Regions from separate parts of the Homo sapiens genome. Here regions 1 and 2 are each linked to region 3. The links come from fine-mapping of genetic effects on gene expression. A gene starts in region 3. Each other region holds a variant in brackets. All regions are shown on one strand. Distances are from middle to middle.

Evidence for each region.
Region 1: its variant is fine-mapped to the expression of ADCK2 in whole blood (TOPMed, PIP above 0.99).
Region 2: its variant is fine-mapped to the expression of ADCK2 in testis (GTEx, PIP 0.90).

The regions. Positions count from the first base shown.
Region 1 is chr7:140,630,941-140,633,696 of GRCh38, reverse strand. The region is part of intron 1 of DENND2A (DENN domain containing 2A); the gene reads left to right. Among named protein-coding and RNA genes, the nearest start is that of DENND2A, 8.5 kb to the left of the region's middle. RefSeq lists an enhancer at 16-516. The variant G/T (reference allele first, on the strand shown) is at 1,674.
Region 2 is chr7:140,710,585-140,713,340 of GRCh38, reverse strand. It overlaps a transcript of BRAF not described here. Among named protein-coding and RNA genes, the nearest start is that of NDUFB2-AS1, 15 kb to the right of the region's middle. The variant T/G (reference allele first, on the strand shown) is at 1,712.
Region 3 is chr7:140,671,868-140,674,623 of GRCh38, reverse strand. It overlaps ADCK2 (aarF domain containing kinase 2), which reads right to left and starts at 1,679. Exons shown (of 8, transcript NM_052853.4): 1 at 361-1,679; 2 at 1-13. The coding sequence starts at 1,293. RefSeq lists a silencer at 1,285-1,744.

The DNA of each region.
Region 1 (2,756 bases), 41 kb after region 3:
CCACATGTTGTGTAGGCTGAAACCTAGGATGGGTGGACCGAGTGACACAAAAGAGCCAACCTAGCAAAGCAATTTCAAGGGCCTCTCTCTCTCCCTCACACTTCCCCACTTCTCAGCAGAGAAGATGCAATAATGGTCAAATTTGATTCAGCACTAAATTCTCTGCAAGTTTATGGTAGGTAAAATATAGGGTAACCATATACACAAAGTAGGACTGTAGAGAAAGTAAAAAGAGAGCATTAGGCCAGGCGCGGTGGCTCACACCTGTAATTCTAGCACTTTGGGCGGCCAAGGCGGGTAGATCACTTGAGGTCGGGAGTTTGAGACCAGCCTGGCCAAACCCCATCTCTATAAAAATACAAACATTAGGGCCAGGCACGGTGGCTCACGCCTGTAATCCCAGCACTTTGGGAAGCTGAGGCGGGTGGATCACGAGGTCAGGAGATGGAGACCATCCTGGCTAACATGGTGAAACCCCATCTCTACTAAAAATACAAAAAATTAGTCGGGCATGGTGGCAGGTGCCTATAGTCCCAGCTACTCAGGAGGCTGAGACAGGAGAATGGTGTGAACGCGGGAGGCGGAGCTTGCAGTGAGCCGAGATTGCGCCACTGCACTCCAGCCTGGGCGGCAGCGCAAGACTCTGTCTCAAAAAAAAAAAAAAAAAATTAGCTGGGCATGGTGGCACACGCCTATAATCCCAGCTACTCAGGAGGCTGAGGCAGGAGAATCGCTTGAACCCAGGAGGTGGAGGTTGCAGTGAGCTGAGATTGCGCCACTGGACTCCAGCCTGGGCAAAAGAGGGAGACTGTCTCAAAAAAAAAAAAAAAAAGGCCAGGCATGGTGGCTCATGCCTGTAACCCCAACACTTTGGGAGGCTGAGGTGGGCCGGATCACCTGAGGTCAGGAGTTGGAGATCCGTCTGGCCAATGAAACCCCATCTCTACTAAAAATACAAAAATTAGCCGGGTGTGGAGGCAGGCGCCTGTAGTCCCAGCTACTCAGGAGGCTGAGGCAGGTGAATCACTTGAACCCAGGAAGCAGAGGTTGCAGTGAGCCGAGATCGCGCCACTGCACTCCAGCCTGGTTGACTAGAGCTAAACTCCTTCTCAAAAAAAGAAAAAAAGCACTAAAAGTAAGTTGTTAATTGATGTACAATAGGCTTAATTAACCTGGACTGTCCCTGCAAACTGCACCTTGTGGCCACGCTGGTAAAGGCTGAGAGTTGGATATGCTCATTCATTCTCCTTGCTGGGACAGGTGTGTTGACCCAGCCAGAAGTGATTTGGTACCACCCCTCTGTCTATCTCCCACCACCTTTCTTATCCACATCTAGAGTTGAGGCTTGAGTTTAGGGAAGGGGAGGAAGCCAGGTGGGTAGTCCAAGGTTGCATATGAACTTCCTTCTTGCTCCCATTCAATGAATCAGAGGAGTCAGATTCTACTTTCACTGCCTCTCCCAGCTCACCATGGAAAAATAGTAACTGCCTGTCTTCTTCCAGCAAACTTTGAAGCATTAAAACAGGACACTTCTATAATTTTATTTGGCATTTCATGTGCCTGGTAAATATAGGCTAAACCTCCCCAGATGACCAAGCAGAGGCATTTGTAAGGGATCACACAGCAAATCACAATTCAGACTGACCCGGCATGGTCCAGGTTGAACTTGGTTG[G/T]GGGAGAAGCTATATGCTCTAGTTTGGTTACTAGATAGAAATGACAGGACAGCCTAAGACATAGAACTTGCATCTCCCGAGCTTGGAGTGAGACTAGTCTCTCAGCCGCAGATTTGGTCGGGGTGGTGACCGCGAAGATAGAAAGGAACTTCCCGAAGCAGCTTGCCTCGTGCTCTGGGATCTTCAGCCAGGGCAATGTCTCCAGCACCCTGGAGACTCAGAGGGATTCTCTACTTAATACTCTGAGCTGCAGATGAGATTTGTTCAGATTTGTCATGAAGTGTGTGGTCATCCAACCCCAAATATAACTCCCTGGCATCTTGTGGTGACTGTCATCTGGTTCATTTCATCATCTGTATTTGTGACAATCAACAAACATAGACAACCTTCCAGGATATCAGAAGGGGACCAGTGCCCTCTGTTTACCCTCCAGCTGACTGATGCATCTAATAGGGTGGAAAAATGTCAGAGAAGAGAGAGCTTCTTAATCCCTCTCAAAACAATCAGACTTGAAGATTCCAGCACCACAGAGAGCCAAGAGAGCCTCTTATTCCAGGCTCTTCTTTCCCTTGAATATAGGACAGCCAAGATTCCTGGTCTGGTACAGAACTGAGAGAGATGGGTAAAGGGGCTAAGAGGCTGCTTCTGGGTACACACACAACCCCGAGGTTCAGGCTGCCAATTTGTCAGAGAAAACGAGAAAGAGAATGCTCCTTTTGGGACCAAGAAAGAAGCAGAACAAATGCAAGAGTCCCACGAGGCAGATCCACATGTTCCTTCCCCACACCCCCGAAATCTGGCTTCTATTCCTATCCATCTGCTGAAACCATATCTTAGGTTACTAATGGTTCGTCTGTGGCCAGTTCCCTGTTCTCATGCTTCTTGATCTCACTAATGCACTTGACACACCCCTGACCCTTCCTTCTTGAAACACAAGTCAAGGTGGATGTAAAATGGGTGCAGTGATGAATCTGCGCCACTTGTCAAAATACTGAAATACTTCTATTCTGGTTGGTAAATAGGGTGTCCCACACTCCCAGGACCACTAACTCTCCCCCTGCCAAGATCTGGCCATTAAAGTGT
Region 2 (2,756 bases), 39 kb before region 3:
AAGAGAAGTTTAGAGAAAAAAGAATAAAAAGAAACGAACTAAGCCTCCAAGAAATATGGGATTATGTGAAAAGACCAAATCTACATCTGATTGGTGTACCTGAAAGTGACAGGGAGAATGGAACCAAGTTGGAAAACACTCTGCAGGATATTATCCAGGAGAACTTCCCCAATCTAGCAAGGCAGGCCAACATTCAAATTCAGGAAATACAGAGAACACCTCAAAGATACTCCTCGAGAAGAGCAACTCCAAGACACATAATTGTCAGATTCACCAAAGTTGAAATGAAGGAAAAAATGTTAAGGGCAGCCAGAGAGAAAGGTCGGGTTACCTACAAAGGGAAGCCAATCAGACTAACAGCGGATCTCTCAGCAGAAACTCTACAAGCCAGAAGAGAGTGGGGGCCAATATTCAACATTCTTAAAGAAAACAATTTTCAACCCAGAATTTCATATCCAGCCAAACTAAGCTTCATAAGTGAAGGAGAAATAAAATACTTTACAGACAAGCAAATGCTGAGAGATTTTGTCACCACCAGGCCTGCCCTACAAGAGCTCCTGAAGGAAGCACTAAACATGGAAAGGGACAACCAGTACCAGCCACTGCAAAAACATGCCAAATTGTAAAGACCATCAAGGCTAGGAAGAAACTGCATCAGCTAATGAGTAAAATAACCAGCTAACAGCATAATGACAGGATCAAATTCACACATAACAATATTAACTTTAAATGTAAATGGGCTAAATGCTCCAATTAAAAGACACAGACTGGCAAACTGGATAAAGAGGCAAGACCCATCAGTGTGCTGTATTCAGGAAACCCATCTCACATGCAGAGACACACATAGGCTCAAAATAAAGGGATGGAGGAAGATCTACCAAGCAAATGGAAAACAAAAAAAGGCAGGGGTTGCAATCCTAGTCTCTGATAAAATGGACTTTAAACCAACAAAGATCAAAAGAGACAAAGAAGGCCATTACATAATGGTAAAGGGACCAATTCAACAAGAAGAGCTAACTATCCTAAATATATATGCACCCAATACAGGAGCACCCAGATTCATAAAGCAAGTCCTTAGTGACCTACAAAGAGACTTAGACTCCCACACAATAATAATGGGAGACTTTAACACCCCACTGTCAACATTAGACAGATCAACGAGACAGAAAGTCAACAAGGATACCCAGGAATTGAACTCAGCTCTGCACCAAGCGGACCTAATAGACATCTACAGAACTCTCCACCCCAAATCAACAGAATATACATTCTTTTCAGCACCACACCACACTTACTCCAATATTGACCACATAGTTGGAAGTAAAGCACTCTTCAGCAAATGTAAAAGAACAGAAATTATAACAAACTGTCTCTCAGACCACAGTGCAATCAAACTAGAACTCAGGATTAAGAAACTCACTCAAAACCACTCAACTACATGGCAACTGAACAACCTGCTCCTGAATGACTACTGGGTAAATAATGAAATGAAGGCAGAAATAAAGATGTTCTTTGAAACCAATGAGAACAAAGACACAACAGACCAGAATCTCTGGGACACATTCAAAGCAGTGTGTAGAGGGAAATTTATGGCACTAAATGCCCACAAGAGAAAGCAGGAAAGATCTAAAATGGGCACCCTAACATCACAATTAAAAGAACTAGAAAAGCAAGAGCAAACACATTCAAAAGCTAGCAGAAGGCAAGAAATAAC[T/G]AAGATCAGAGCAGAACTGAAGGAAATAGAGACACAAAAACCCTTCAAAAAATTAATGAATCCAGGAGCTGGTTTTTAGAAAAGATCAACAAAATTGAGACTGCTAGCAAGACTAATAAAGAAGAAAAGAGAGAAGAATCAAATAGACGCAATAAAAAATGATAAAGGGGATATCACCACCGATCCCACAGAAATACAAACTACCATCAGAGAATACCACAAACACCTCTATGCAAATAAACTAGAAAATCTAGAAGAAATGGATAAATTCCTCGACACATACATCCTCCCAAGACTAAACCAGGAAGAAGTTGAATCTCTGAATAGACCAGTAACAGGCTCTGAAATTGAGGCAATAATCAATAGCTTACCAACCAAAAAGAGTCCAGGGCCATATGGATTCACAGCCGAATTCTACCAGAGGTACAAAGAGGAACTGGTACCATTCCTTCTGAAACTATTCCAATCAATAGAAAAAGAGGGAATCCTCCCTAACTCATTTTATGAGGCCAGCATCATCCTGATACCAAAGCCTGGCAGAGACACAACCCAAAAAGAGAATTTTAGACCAATATCCTTGATGAACATCGATGCAAAAATCCTCAATAAAATACTGGCAAACCGAATCCAGTAGCACATCAAAAAGCTTATCCACCATGATCAAGTGGGCTTCATCCCTGGGATGCAAGGCTGGTTCAACATACGCAAATCAATAAATGTAATCCAGCATATAAACAGAACCAAAGACAAAAACCACATGATTATCTCAATAGATGCAGAAAAGGCCTTTGACAAAATTCAACAACCCTTCATGCTAAAAACTCTCAATAAATTAGGTATTGATGGGACGTATCTCAAAATATTAAGAGCTATCTATGACAAACCCACAGCCAATATCATACTGAATGGGCAAAAACTGGAAGCTTTCCATTTGAAAACTGGCACAAGACAGGGATGCCCTCTCTCACCACTCCTATTCAACATAGTGTTGGAAGTTCTGGCCAGGGCAATCAGGCAGGAGAAGGAAATAAAGGGTATTCAATTA
Region 3 (2,756 bases):
CAGGGTGCAACACCTGTCAGAAAGAGGAACCGTGAGACAGGAGAAACCTGCTGGACACATTTTACCCAGCCAGGGCTGGGTCCCACCATCCAAGCAAGAGCCAGGTGGCTTCTTATCAAAGAAAAGAGGATGTGGTCCCGACACCCAAGCAGTTAGTTCACTCCAGACTCAGTTCATTTTCCTCTATCAGACTATTCACACCGCCACTTCAAGCCAATAAATGAAACAGCTTGCATGAAATAAGCACTCAGATATTGGTCAGGCAAATAGAAATAAACGTGGGGGCGATTTGCATGGCGGTTGTTTCTGATCTGGGATAGCTCAGTGGGTAGGTGAGCTGTGAGCTCTCACAACACTTACTTTCACTGCCACGGAGATGAGGTTGGTGGCCTCAGGTTGGTGGCCAGGGACCTGAGCCCGAGACACCCCTGCATTTGATCCAACCAGGTCAGCTTTAGGGAGGAGCAGCCTTTCTAGAAACGACTGGTCTGCGAGATTTTCTGGAGGTTTCCGGCCATTTCCAAGGTATCCAAAGAGCTCTCTCAGCCCACCGACTGCCCCAGTATGTGAGAAGGGCGGCAGACAGGAGGCCCTGCCAAGTCTCTGGACGCTGTCAGTCTCCAGGAAGGCAGTGTTGGCGTATGCTTTGTACACCTGGGCCACGCAGCCTGAGCCCACAGGTTCCCGGTTCTCAAAAGAGAGGATGCTCCCCCAGTCATCCCCAAAAGCCTGCCGAAGGAAGCGCTCAGTGTGAGTCCACGGGTGGGGCGTCACTCGGACATGCAGCTTGGAAAATTGGGCACAGAAAGCCTCCGAAAACAGATCGCGCCGGGTGCTGGCCCACTGGCCCAGTTTGATGTAGGTTGGGCCTGAGGTCTCGGTGGCTTTCAGAAGCAGGTGGAGCCAGAGGGTGGAGACGCTGGGAGCCAGGTAGGTGAGGGGGTAGAGGAGTAGGAGGGGGAAGAATTTCACCAACAGAGCGCCGGCGCGAAGCCAGAGGCGGAGATGCAGGAAGACGCCGCCCAGAGGTCCCGCTCGGGGGAGGCTCTCCGCGGGCCCCGCGCCAGCCGCCCCGCTGCAGCGGACCCTTCGCCGACTCAGAACGTCAGGGGCCCCCTCACCCACGTCCCCGCACAGGGAGACGACCTTGGGCAAAGTGCCCAGCAGAAGCCAGCAGAGCCTGGCATCGCGAGGGCACTCGGAGGGCCTCAGGAGGCTGAGTCCCTGTCTGAGCTCGAAGCACCTCAGGTGCGACAGGCAAACCCTGACGGAGACGCGCCAGGGCGCCACCATCCTCCCGAGGCCCGCGGCCCAGGCGGCCCGCCCTCCACTTCAGAGGCGCCCGCTCAGGCGAGGCTGCGGTGAAGCCGAAGCCCGGCCCTGACCCCGCGGACGGAGCTGCCCATCTGGGCCGGATCCGCGCCCCGCTCCCTCCAGCACCTCGCCGGGCCTCAGGCCGGAGGCCCGCGCCCCGCCCGACACCCGCCGCGCCGCGCCGCGCCGCGCGGAAGGGGCTGTCAGACGGCACCAACTGCGGAACGGGAGGAGCCAGGACCCACGCGAAGCCAGGCCCCGGGCGCCCGCGACCTGAGCGAGGGGGCCGCGCGGGCGGAGGCAGGGGCCGGGCAGCCGCAGGGTCACCGTGCGCCCAGGGGCCAGTATGAGATCGCTGGGGTGGCGGGCACCAGCCCAGGGCGCGGGCGCAGGCGGGGGCCGGGAGGGCGGGGCGGAGCGTGGAGGGCGGGCGGAGCGTCGGGGGCGGAGCGTCGGGGGCGGGCGGGAGTGCAGGTGCAGGGAACCGAGGCACCGAGGGCTGTGGTGGAGCGGAGGGGCGCGGGAGATGGATGGGACGGGTTCGGCCACTAGGTTGAAACCGCCATTGCAAAATTATAACAGATAATGAAAGAGATCTGACCTAACCAACTCCATCTTGCTTCTAACCTCCAAGCTGTCCTTGTTCATTCCTGGGCGTTGGCTGAACTAACTTTGGGAGGAACTTAGTTTATACTTTATAGTTTAAAACAAAGATGATAACAGCCCTTTCTGAAAACAAACCTCCTTCTTGCCTGGGGAATAGACTGTCTTTGTAGGACTAACAAATTAACCAAAAGATTAGAAAGTATGATTTAGGAGTCAGGCAGCAAGGCTACAGTATTCTGACCCTCCCTAAACTGCTAATAAGATCAGTGCTCAAGATATTTTGCAGACCCTGCACTTGATGGATCAACTGACACCTACCAGATCGATAAACCAGGTCATCTGATCTTAGGCCCCCACTCCGGAACTAACTCAGCACAAGAGGACAGCTTCAGTTCCCTAAGATTTCACCTCCGACCCAACCAATCAGCACTCTCGACTCACTGGCCTTCCCCCACCCACCAAGTTGTCCTTAAAAACTCTGCCCAGTGTCCCGCGCAGCCTGATCTGTGTGAATTACTCCTTCTCTATTGCAATGCCCCTGTCTTGATAAATCGGCTCTGTCTAGGCAGCAGGCAAGGTGAACCCGCTGGGCTGTTACAGGGTGGCCGGTGGGGGCAGAGGGCTGGGTGCTGGGCGGTGAGGGTCGGAGGGAGCAGAGGGTCGGTGGCAGAGGCCCGGGCAGCCAGGGTCCCTTGACCCGCCCCTTAAAGAGGACGGCGACCCCAGGCCAAGACCACCCTGCCCTTGAGTCCTGGGTCCTGGGTAGCAAAACGCAAAGGCACCCTCTATGTCCCCCTCCCCATGTCTATCTTCCCACTGACTTCTTCGTATCTTTC